3 linked regions of the Homo sapiens genome follow. The protein of the gene in region 2 purifies or fractionates together with the protein of the main gene of each other region. This does not show direct contact. Each region holds a gene or a part of one and is shown on either strand. Other genes may lie near its edges. The genes, in order: PVALB, ASCC3 and CLEC3A.

Region 1 (3,655 bases), on a different chromosome or scaffold from region 2:
GTCCTGGTTCTGACTCAAGCTGCAACCCCCAGAGGCAGAAGGAGAGGGATGCATGGAGGGGAATGTCTTTTTCCACCAAGCAGCTGCTCCCTTTCACAAGAGGCCAGTTATGTAAGGAAGGCTGCTTCCTCTCCCCTTGCTAAATCTTTTCTAGTGCAGCATAAGGCCAGAGCTAGGGAAAGTCCACACGGGAATAAAAAGAGCAGATTGCTAAGCACAGAAGCCATTTATAACTAAAACGTCTCAGCTCAGCTTAGGGGAGGGAGTGGTGGAGTCAGGAGACCCGGGTCCCGTTGGGCCAAGGACTTCTATGTGACTTTGGCACTTACTGTCTACGGGGCCTCAGTTTTCAAGTCTCTCAGTGGGCATCACAGTGTCCCCTAAACCTCATTGAGCTGGTACCAGGGTGCAATGAGATGGGACAAAGCATCGTGCACCTTAGGGCTCTGCCCTCAAAACCCTGGGCTAGCCTTGATCTGAGCATCCTGTCCTACTTAGAAATCAAATCCCCATAGAGGCCGGAGGGCTAGAATTACAGGGAGAACGGCAAATTCTCCTTCTATCTCTCTCACTTTTCTCCTGCTTTAGACTCAATTTCCTTTCTGTTGAGGATTGAGATTCCACCACTTTTAAAAGGTTTTGGGTGGCTTACGAGCAAAACATTCCCATAAAATAAGAGGAAAGGAATCATTTCTAGAACATTCTCTTCATTCGAGCAACAGCCCTGTAAGGTGTGTATTTTTCTCCCCACTTTCCAGGTGTGGGAATGGATGTCCTGAGAGAGGAAAAGATACAGCCATTCCCACGGCTGATCCCCAGCATTTGGCTTTCTAATTTCTGCCTGACTCAGGTGCTCCACCACAGCCCAAGGCCTTACGCTACCACTCCGCCTCTCACGCCTCTCACGGTAAATAGGCTACTTAAGGATAAAAGGGAACAGATTTTGCCAGAGGGAAGCAGAAAAGGCAAATTCCTTCAGGCATGCGAGTGAGTGGCAAGGGGTGGGGGGGTTGCAAGGTTAGGCAATAATGATGACTACATGTTTCAGCAACAGAAGCAAAATGCAAACCCCAAACTCTTGAGTTGAGACACACTTAAAGCAGAGGGCAGTGGATCCATCGCCGGGAATGGGTTTCAGGAAGAATGTAACTAGGACTGCGTGCAGGCACGTGTGCACACGGGGCATGCGGATCTTCTCTGCAGCAAGATATTAGGAGTCAAGGTTTGAAGAGGGCCCTGAGGCTTCACAGCAAGTCGCTCTGCTTCCCGGGGCCTCAGATTCCTTGTATGTATCAGTAACAAAAATATCTTGTAGAGCTGTTGGGAGGTTTGAATGAGTTAAAAGATGTAAGGCCTGTGTGCTGTACTTGGCACACAGGAAGTGGGGATGAATGCTAACCTCGATTCCTGTTGGTCAACACACTCTGCGGGGGCAGGCATTGAGTTTGGAAGGCCCAGGCTGGGGACACATGCTCGTGTGAGGCAGGATGGCAGAGGGTCCTGGCTGGACCACCGAGCCTCAGTTCTAGCTCTGCTACAGAGAGACCCTGGGCATGTCACTTCTCACGATGCCTCAGTTTCTCCACTTGCAAAATGGGGATAGTGACGGCATCTACTTCCTAGGATTATTGTAAGGCAGTGGTCTTCTAAGTGTGGTTCGCCAGATCATTAGCACCATCTGCTAACTTGTAAGAAATGCAAAAGTGTGGGCTCCACCTAAGGAATCAGAAACTCCTGGGGTCTGGCACAGCCATCTGTGTTGCCATAGGCCCTCCAGGTGATGCTGACACCCGCTCCCAGCTGGAGACCTGTTGTGAAGGTGAAGTGTTTGAAAAGCCACCTGCCACATAGTCTGCTTTGTCTGCTTTTTATGCCTGGGCTTTGCAACTGCAGGTGCTTTAACAAAGATTTTTTTTTGGCACCCTTCACCTCTTTTTCTAGCTTCTCTTTCCTTTTCAGCCTTAAGCCCTCCCCATGTCAGCTCTGCACCAGCCTTTTAGGGTGGCCTTTGAGAATGAATCAACCACATCTATAAAAGCCTTTGAGCTTCCTGGAAGTAGTTGCCCCAGAGACGGGAATGCAAAGGGTTATTATTAGAACTTTGTCTTCCTACCCCCTCCCTTCAATACAGGATCTTCAAGAAACTGATAAGTATCACTCACCTTCAGAAGGACAAACAGAGCAGGGAAGAGAGGCAGTCCCTGGTTTGGGCTCCCTGGCACCTGCTACAGACAAGTCTCCACAGATCCCCAACCTTGGCTTGCAGATCATCTCCCACTACATACAGCAGTTATGATCCTCATCACTGCACAGTGCTGCCCAGAGCTGGGTACTTGTTCATTCATTCATTCATTCATTCAACCAAATACACTTTTCTTTTTCTCCCACTATGGGCCAGGCCCTATTCTAGGTGCTGGGATTAGAACTGAAAAAAACAAAGTTCCTGCTCAGTGGACCTGACATCTTAGTGGAGGAGAAAGAAATAGGCAATAAGTCAATAAATATAATCATCTTATAGTAAATTAAACTATGAATGAATGAATGAATGAATGAAGCAGGCAGCACAGGTCACGTGCTTCGGAGCTCAAAAGACCCGACTTTCAGACTTTGATCTTTTCTCTTCCTAGCCTAAAGGGTTTATGCAAGCCCTTAGCCTCTCTGAGCCTCAGTGTGCTCATCTATAAAATGGGAATCATAATAGTATACACTTCAGAGATAGCTAGGAAGATTAAATGAGTGAAATGCTAAGCACGGTGCCTGGCACATATTGAGCGCTCTATGAACTTAGATGCTATTGCCATCATCACTCAAGGTCACGCAGCTGAGCCAAAATAGTGAAGTGGTCTTCTGTGTAGAGGTTTATCCACTGAGACATCTGTGAAATCCCGGGGCTGGAACGCACCCCAGTAATTGGCTAGTGATCTGCCCCATGTCCCATGTTTTTTTTTTTTTTTTTTGGTTTTTCGTTTTGTTTTGTTTTGTTTTTGAGATGGAGTCTAGCTCTGCTGTCCAGGCTGGAGTGCAGTGGTGTGATCTTGGCTCACTGCAACCTCCGCCTCCTGGGTTCAAGTGATTCTCCTGCCTCAGCCTCTTGAGTAGCTGGGATTACAGGTGTGTGCCACCACGCCTGGCTAATTTTTGTATTTTTAGTAGAGGTGGGGTTTCACCATGTTGGCCAGGCTGGTCTCGAACTCCTGACCTTGTGATCTGCCCGCCTTGGACTCCCAAAGTGCTGGGATTACAGGCATGAGCCACTGCGCCCGGCATGCCCCATGGTTTTAAAGACAAGGCACTTTATGGTCAGAGGGGCTCTGGGACATGCCCCAGATCCCGCCAGGAGTTGAAGGCATCTTCCAGCTATAGGTGGGGCTCGGGCCTTCTGGCCTTTAGAGAGAGTGACAGCAAAGCAGAGTATCTGAAACAGAACGTCCTGGGCCCCAAAAAGGCTCTGCTTCCCATCTCGCTGCCTATTGGGCATCATTGCACCCACCCTTCCTGCGTTAGGGGGTTGGGAGTGAGGAAGGGGGCATCTGCATCTTCCCACCTCAAAAGCATGAAGTGTGGGGCCCCAGTGCCTCAGGGTGGTCTGTGCTCATTGTCTATTTTATGTCTTGCCTATGAGCTCAATGGAGGCTGCACAGGTGGGCCTGGACCA
Region 2 (3,655 bases):
GAAAAATCATTGTTATTTAACTCTATGAAAGAAAAATGCTGCATTATAGTAAATGGAAACTCTTTAAAAACATGCAATGTATTTAATTTCAATGTGAAAAATTTAAATAAATCAGCCCCAAAATTCCAATAAATACATTGATTCTTCTAGGTCAGAGAAGAGGAAATAGAGGAGTTAGATACCTTATTAAGCAATTTTTGTGAACTCTCCACTCCTGGAGGTGTAGAGAATAGTTATGGGAAAATAAACATCTTACTTCAAACTTATATCAGCCGAGGAGAAATGGACAGTTTCTCCCTTATATCAGATTCTGCATATGTTGCACAGGTAAGTATCTTATTCCCTTCCAGTTTTCTCTTCCTTGAATATATTTAGAGGACCAAGGTGTTAATTCATGCTGTGCTATGAATGCATTGCTTTGTGACATGCTACCAAACCACCATTTTACTTAGAACTGTTTCTGCTAATTTGTAAATATTTTATGTAATCTATGCTCATAAAACAGGACTGGGGATGAGATTTGGTGACTGATAGGGCTTTTTTTGGTGATGTTGATGTTTCTTACAAAGTTTTAAAATGATACCTGATTTTTTTCTACTTTAAATGATGAATTTCATTTCTTTTACTTATAAAGTAAAAGAATATAAAGTACTTATAAAGAGAAAAGTTAAAGAATATTGCAAGCATAAAGAAAAGATTGTGGAACTTTTTTAGATTTTTACCAAATATTAGAAATAATAATATTTTTAATCATTAAACAAGGCGTAGTAAACATATTTCCTACCATACGTTCAGTGTGATGTCTCTGGTTTTTACAAAAGTAATCTCTCCTCTCTACTGTTGAAACTTAAACATTGAGGACAGAAAGAAAATTATTCCCTAAACTACAGCTCATTTAATTTATAACTTTTAAAAAATACCATGGTATAAACTGTTCAAATATTTGTGTTTTTATATTCAAGCCCTTATGTGAAGTAAAGTAGGTTATATTTTACCCTATTTATCCTTCAAATGAAAGATTTCCCTTCTAGACATACTTTTTTAAAAAAATTATTTACCTGTCAAGGCTTTTTAATTTTATTTTATTGAGTACTTCCTTTTATAAATTAAGAAGAAATTAAAGCTTAATTTTATTTTAAATATGGAAATGATTCTGCTGTTATATTTGTAATTTTGTTCAAAGAAAGACTAAATATAGAAAAAGAATGTTTGTGTTAAATATATCATTATTAATAGCCATGAGTACTCAGGAGTCCTTTAAACATGGAATATTTACAAACACAAACCAAGACATATTGGTAAACATTTTGAATGCATGTAGTAATTTAATCAATGTAACCAAGATACCAGGTTATATAATTCATAAATTATATAAAGTTAATATAGATGTAGTGAAAATATTTATATATTCTTTAAACCCTATAGCTTCTATAGGAATAATTTTCTAATCTCCTTTGTTTTATCTGTTTTTCTGTAAAGTAATGTAATATTGTCATTTTATATTTTCTAATGATTTTATATTGAAATAGTTAATCATTTAAATAAAAGGTAAAGTTTTACTGGGTTCTGGATGAATAATCTGGCAACATTTCTGCTTGCTTCAAGATTATGAAGATATTATCAGAGACTGACATAAGAATTGCTTACAATGTAAAACTTTAATTCTCTTCATGATTGGTATCCAGGAAGTCAACTTCTGATTAAGGATATCTCAAAGCATCCCTGTTTTTTCTTAAACAGCCATTATGGATTTAGCATCCCTGAATGCATCAGATAAATTATACTTTATTACATTTTAAGTTTAAGCTATCAGTAATTGAACAACTACTCTCTCAACTCTGTAAAATGATATTTTCTTCTATATTTTTTAAACTTTCTCTCCTCAGCCCCTAAGGTAAACCTATAGCTCAAATATTCTAGGATTTTATTTAAAGGCCTATGCTTAACTTTTCTAGACTGTACATGTTATAGACTTATTATTTTGAACCAATTTATATCATTCTAGATTAACATGTCCTGTTTGTATCTTGTCATATGGAATTTCTCCTACTTCTTTTAGCATTGAGGGGATAACTGTAGATCCTGAAATATTAAAATGACATACTTTCAAAGGCAGGAAAATTAGCCTGATAGTTTTTTGTAAGAACAAGTGGGAATGAGGTAGGAAAACCTATTTGGTAGATACAGTAATCAAAATTTTATTTATTATTCTCTGGGCCTTATAAAGACCCATTCAGTCATTTTTAATGGATATCAGAACTGTCCTCATACTTCTATCTACCATTTTGTACTTTAATTTCTAATACTGAAACAAAATAGTCAAATTTATCAAAAGACAGCGCATATCTTATATAAAATGTGAAATGAAAGCCTTTAACTCATCTGTCATTTTTGACTTCATAATTTTAGGCTGGATTGTTTGTCTGCCATTTGAAATCTTTTCAGTTTTGTATCTCTTGTTTGGATTTTAACCAGACTGAACATTCTTTATTTTCAAATACAGATGTTACTGGATTTTGGAAGGTATAAGTTCATTTAAAAAACAATCTTTAATAAAACAATCTGCAAAGTTAATGATAGAGGAGTGGAGGCAAAATAAATGGGAGCTAGCTGTAGAAATGTGAAGAAAAAGACTACATTCATTATAACTTTCTATATGTCTATTAATAAAGTTATCCTCAGACCACTGAGTCTAGAATCTCAGTTATATTTGGAGTCCTTTAGTCCTGGCTTTGAGTAGATGCTCTGACACCAACTAGCAGTGTGACCTTGGTCAAATTTTTTACCTCTTTAAGCCCTAGTATATTCATCTATAAAATCATAATATTAATATCAATTAAATGCAATTTTTGTAAAAGTTAAATGAGGCAATATATGTAAAGCAAGTTAACACATTGTTTGGTTTATAGGAAGCCATTTGTATGGCCCTTTCATATGAGTAGCTACACTAATCAGTATTTCATTTGTCACCCTTCTCTCATTATTTTTTTTCCCTATCAGGATCCCAGTCTTCCTTAATCCTCTAAATAGCCTTGTAAATTTAATCATTCCACTATTCACCAAGAGGCGTCCTTGTCTCTTATAGTCAGATGCCTTAACAGCCTCCTAAATATTTTGCATGCCTTTTGTCTCTTCCTACTTCATTCCTGTTTAGAAGGTAGAGCTTTCTAAGAACTTGGAAATAAGGCTTCCCCTCTGAGAGTAAGCAAGTAGCATCCACATATAAAGGATAGGATTATTCTTATGTAGAAATAATAAGATAATTAGGATTATATGAGAAAAGATATTGCCCCACAATTCAAGGATGCAGCTTGACTTGCACTTCTTTTCAGACTGAGTTTGAATAATAGATTTATTGACAAATTTAAAAGCACATTGGGTATAACCACCAATCTCCTCCTATAATTTTTTAGAATGCAGCTAGAATTGTCCGTGCTCTTTTTGAAATTGCTCTGAGGAAACGTTGGCCTACCATGACCTACAGGCTCCTGAATCTTAGTAAAGTCATTGACAAGAGGCTTTGGGGTTGGGCTAGCCCTTTGAGACAATTTTCAATCCTACCACCACACATCCTAACAAGATTAGAAGAAAAAAAGCTTACTGTGGATAAGCTGAAAGACATGAGGAAAGATGAAATAGGTAAGAAGGAAGCAAA
Region 3 (3,655 bases), on a different chromosome or scaffold from region 2:
GTTTTACTGGCCATGTCTTCTGGGAATGACTTTTGTGTTTCTACACTGTGTCTACCTCTGGAGAGCAACAGTAAAATGAAAGGGAGCCTTCTGGGGGACTCAAAATAGCAACCGAAGAATTTAGCTTCAAACACAAGATCTCTCTGGTACTTGCTTCATAGGTCTCAATTTATGTGTTGCATTCATGAATAAAATATGACTTTTCCAGCTCAGTAGTTGTTCCACATATTCCCTTTGTTTGTTGTACATAAAAGACATCTATATCAGCTACAAAGGATGGAAGCTACAGCCAAGTCCCTGGACAATGAATTTCATAACCATCTCCCAGGAGCCTAATATCAATTCATGTGTCTTCATGTTAATTACAATGTTTACAATCTCCCAGTAGAGGCCACTTATTTAAGGAGAATGGAGCAGGAAGCTGAGAGGGATGGGGGATGACATTTTTAGAGGTGACAGCTTATACCTTGGAAGAAAGTGTTCAGCAGTCTTTGCAAGCCCGGCCCCCACCAGCTGATGAATTTGCATTCTGAATGCACCCTTACATTTTTTCTGGATTAAATGGTCACACAGGTAAAAATCTTTAGGTTATAGTATTTCTGAGCTGAGCCATGGGATGCTTTGAGAACTGATGTGTAGCATTAAGTAAAACAGAGGCAGGGGCCACCCCTGGATATTCCAGAAGACAGCTTCCTAACCCAAATGAGGAAACATCTGGCTTATGAAGCACATGTTTAAGGGGACAGTGAATTAGCACATGTGAATTTTAGACTGTCCTGAAAAATCCAGTACAGAACATAGACTTCCTCCATGGAATCCCCACAAAGAAGCAGCTGGGAACAGTTCATACCAAGCTTTAAGTATCTTCTCTGTCTGGGGCCATGTGCTCGGGACCAAGAAGGTAGAGGCAATCACTGTGCAGAAGCAGGTAAGAGGGATGAAATGAGAACAGGCCTGGAGCTGGGCAAATTTAAATCCCAATTCTTCACTTTACTAGCTGGGTGACCTTCAGCAGGTGAATTCAGCTTTCCGGGACTCTTTCTTCTGCAGAATGGAGACAATGATTGTGTCTCTCTCAAAGCACTACTGAAAGAATTGATCTCTGACAAACAGTATGTGGAAGCTTTTAATAATTTTTGTTATGATTTATAATTCCTGCTTTTGAAGACCTCACAAGCTGCCAATCTCTAAGAGAATCCTTATTACACCTGAAATTTCAATTTATCCAAGGCTTCTTGTTTTCTGCCACTTACTTATAGCCAAGATTGGTCAAGGACAGCTATAAAGATCCTTTAGCCTCATCCAGGAACATACAAGACTTAAGTTGCTAATACCTAATATAGACGTATTTCTATATGAACCTTTAGCACTTAACCCTGCTAGTAGCCACCATACCTGAGGCATGTGTTGAGTCGGAACACTGGGGACAGGGGACCTGGGGACCCAAATCAGTCAGAGTATGAATTCTGCCATGTATCTTTTGAGACACTCTCATTGGACTTGTCCTCATTCTTCAGTGGGAATCCAATTTTTCTCCCTTCATAGCTATGTTTGAAGAGCAAGTGAAAACAATTTTGTATACCATAAAGTGTGTATTCACTAGACAATATTATGAACACCTATTATGTACCAAGTATCATGTTAAGCATCAGAAGAACCAAGAATAATAAGACAGATGAAATAAAGTAAAATAGAGAAAAGAAAATATACAGAATACTCTATAAAATATGGAATAAAATAAAATGTGAACTGAGACTAGAGAATGAAGAAAAATAAGTTTCAAAGACAGATTAGCAGAAGGGATACTAAATTATAGTATAACCAGGAAAGCCTTCTCAGAAGAGGAGATATTTAAGCTTGCTAAGAATACAGGAAAGCGCTGGAGCAAGAGTGATCCTAGCAGAAGGAACACACAGGGAAGATGAGATTGAGCTCATTCTCAGATGACCCTGAAAGTCAACAAGCCTAGAGTCACAGGATGTGACTGGAGAGACAGAAGGAGCCTCATCTCACAGAAGGACCTTCTAGTATTATGATTGCCATGAAGCTCTTAAGAATCTTCCTGTCCAAGTTATTTTCTTTTTCTTTTTTTCCTTCCTTCTTTCCTTCATTCATTGTTTTTTTGTTTGTTTGGTTTTTTTTCAGACAGAGTTTCACTCCCTCACCAAGGCTGGAGTGCAGTGGAATGATCTTTGCTCACTGCAACCTCTGCCTCCCAAGTTGAAGCAGTTCTCATGCCTCAGCTTCCCAAATAGCTGGAATTACAGGCATTCAACACCATGCCCAGCTAATTTTTATACTTTTAGTAGAGACAGGGTTTTGCTATGTTGGCCAGGCTGGTCTCGAACTCCTGGCCTCAAGTGGTCCACCCGCCTTGGCCTCCCCAAGTGCTGGGATTACAGGCGTGAGCCACTTCGCCAGCCCCAAGTTATTTTCACGCATTATTTTTTGTATACACTGGGCTCAGGTTCACCAAAACCACTATTGCCTTGGGTCCTACATTCCAAAGCTTGATTTTATTTTAATCATACGCTTTTCATCCACCTACCCCATCCCACCCTAAAATTTTCCCCAGACAAGGATGGAGATCTGAAGACTCAAATTGAAAAGCTCTGGACAGAAGTCAATGCCTTGAAGGAAATTCAAGCCCTGCAGACAGGTAAGGTGCAGACCTTCTCAGTGCCTTGTCCCAAAGGAGACAGGAAAATTTCTGGGTCAATTTCTGGGGGACGTCTTTTTAAAAGAAACATTGACAAATCAATAATGTGGCCAATAAGAGGGCCCCAATGCCGGGAGATGATTGTTTTAGGAAATCAGCTTCATTTACAATCCCATTCTCCTATATATGGGTGGTATAGAAATAAAAATAAGTAGTTCAGGAATAAATTTGAAAAGTCAGTCCATACTTATTCTCTAAAGAGTAGTGAAACAGAATGAAGCCAGTATGAAATGACTAAAATGATTAGCATTTATTGGATGATAGCTAAGTGCCTATCAGGCCACCAGGACTCTCTCGGGCCACACCCAGCCTAAGATGCTGGAAGGACATGGGTTAGAACCGCAGCTTGCCAACAGGGCAGCGCCAGCGTTCCTCCCCACAGTTATGCAGCCACATGCGCTACTGCCCAGGAGCTATTCTCCAAGGGGTGAGGAAGTGAGCCATGTGGGCAGGTTTGGGAACAGCCCTGGTTTACAAGGCTCATCCCCCAAGGAGCTAATATCCTTTGTAGCAATTTCAAAAGCAAGGTGTTGAGGTTCCTCACAAGAGACCTGCCTCATTACAAGTTACTGCCTTCAGGGAAGACTGAAGTTACGGCTTTCCATCAAGTATTTATAACTCCCAGACCAGATGCATGTTACCAACCTGGGGTCATTTTTACCACAAGCAATGTTGCCTAGTAACAAGGGTGACATACTCCCTTTATCAGGCTTCCGGGGGAACAGAATTAGAAAGTTAAAAGACAGTCAAATGCTTATGCAGAAGGTGAGTTTGGTTCATCCTTTACCCACAGTCAGGTACTAGAAATTCTTTATAAACACAAATCCATTAATCCTCCAGCAACTTAAGCTATTATGATCCTAATTTTACAGATGAGGAAAATGAGGCACAAAGAAGGTAAGTAATTTGTTCAAGAGATACACAGCTAGTTAAATG

The links.
Region 1: the proteins of ASCC3 (region 2) and PVALB purify together in Homo sapiens (affinity purification with mass spectrometry; one large-scale study listed by BioGRID and IntAct). This does not show direct contact.
Region 3: the proteins of ASCC3 (region 2) and CLEC3A purify together in Homo sapiens (co-immunoprecipitation; one large-scale study listed by IntAct). This does not show direct contact.

Annotation. Positions count from the first base shown.
Region 1 is NC_000022.11:36,806,917-36,810,571, forward strand, and holds part of PVALB (parvalbumin alpha), read right to left. Parts: intron 1-3,655. UniProt on the Homo sapiens protein: In muscle, parvalbumin is thought to be involved in relaxation after contraction. It binds two calcium ions.
Region 2 is NC_000006.12:100,647,210-100,650,864, reverse strand, and holds part of ASCC3 (activating signal cointegrator 1 complex subunit 3), read left to right. Parts: intron 1-150; coding exon 151-327; intron 328-3,413; coding exon 3,414-3,639; intron 3,640-3,655. UniProt on the Homo sapiens protein: ATPase involved both in DNA repair and rescue of stalled ribosomes. 3'-5' DNA helicase involved in repair of alkylated DNA: promotes DNA unwinding to generate single-stranded substrate needed for ALKBH3, enabling ALKBH3 to process alkylated N3-methylcytosine (3mC) within double-stranded regions.
Region 3 is NC_000016.10:78,025,532-78,029,186, forward strand, and holds part of CLEC3A (C-type lectin domain family 3 member A precursor), read left to right. Parts: intron 1-2,575; coding exon 2,576-2,659; intron 2,660-3,655. UniProt on the Homo sapiens protein: Promotes cell adhesion to laminin-332 and fibronectin.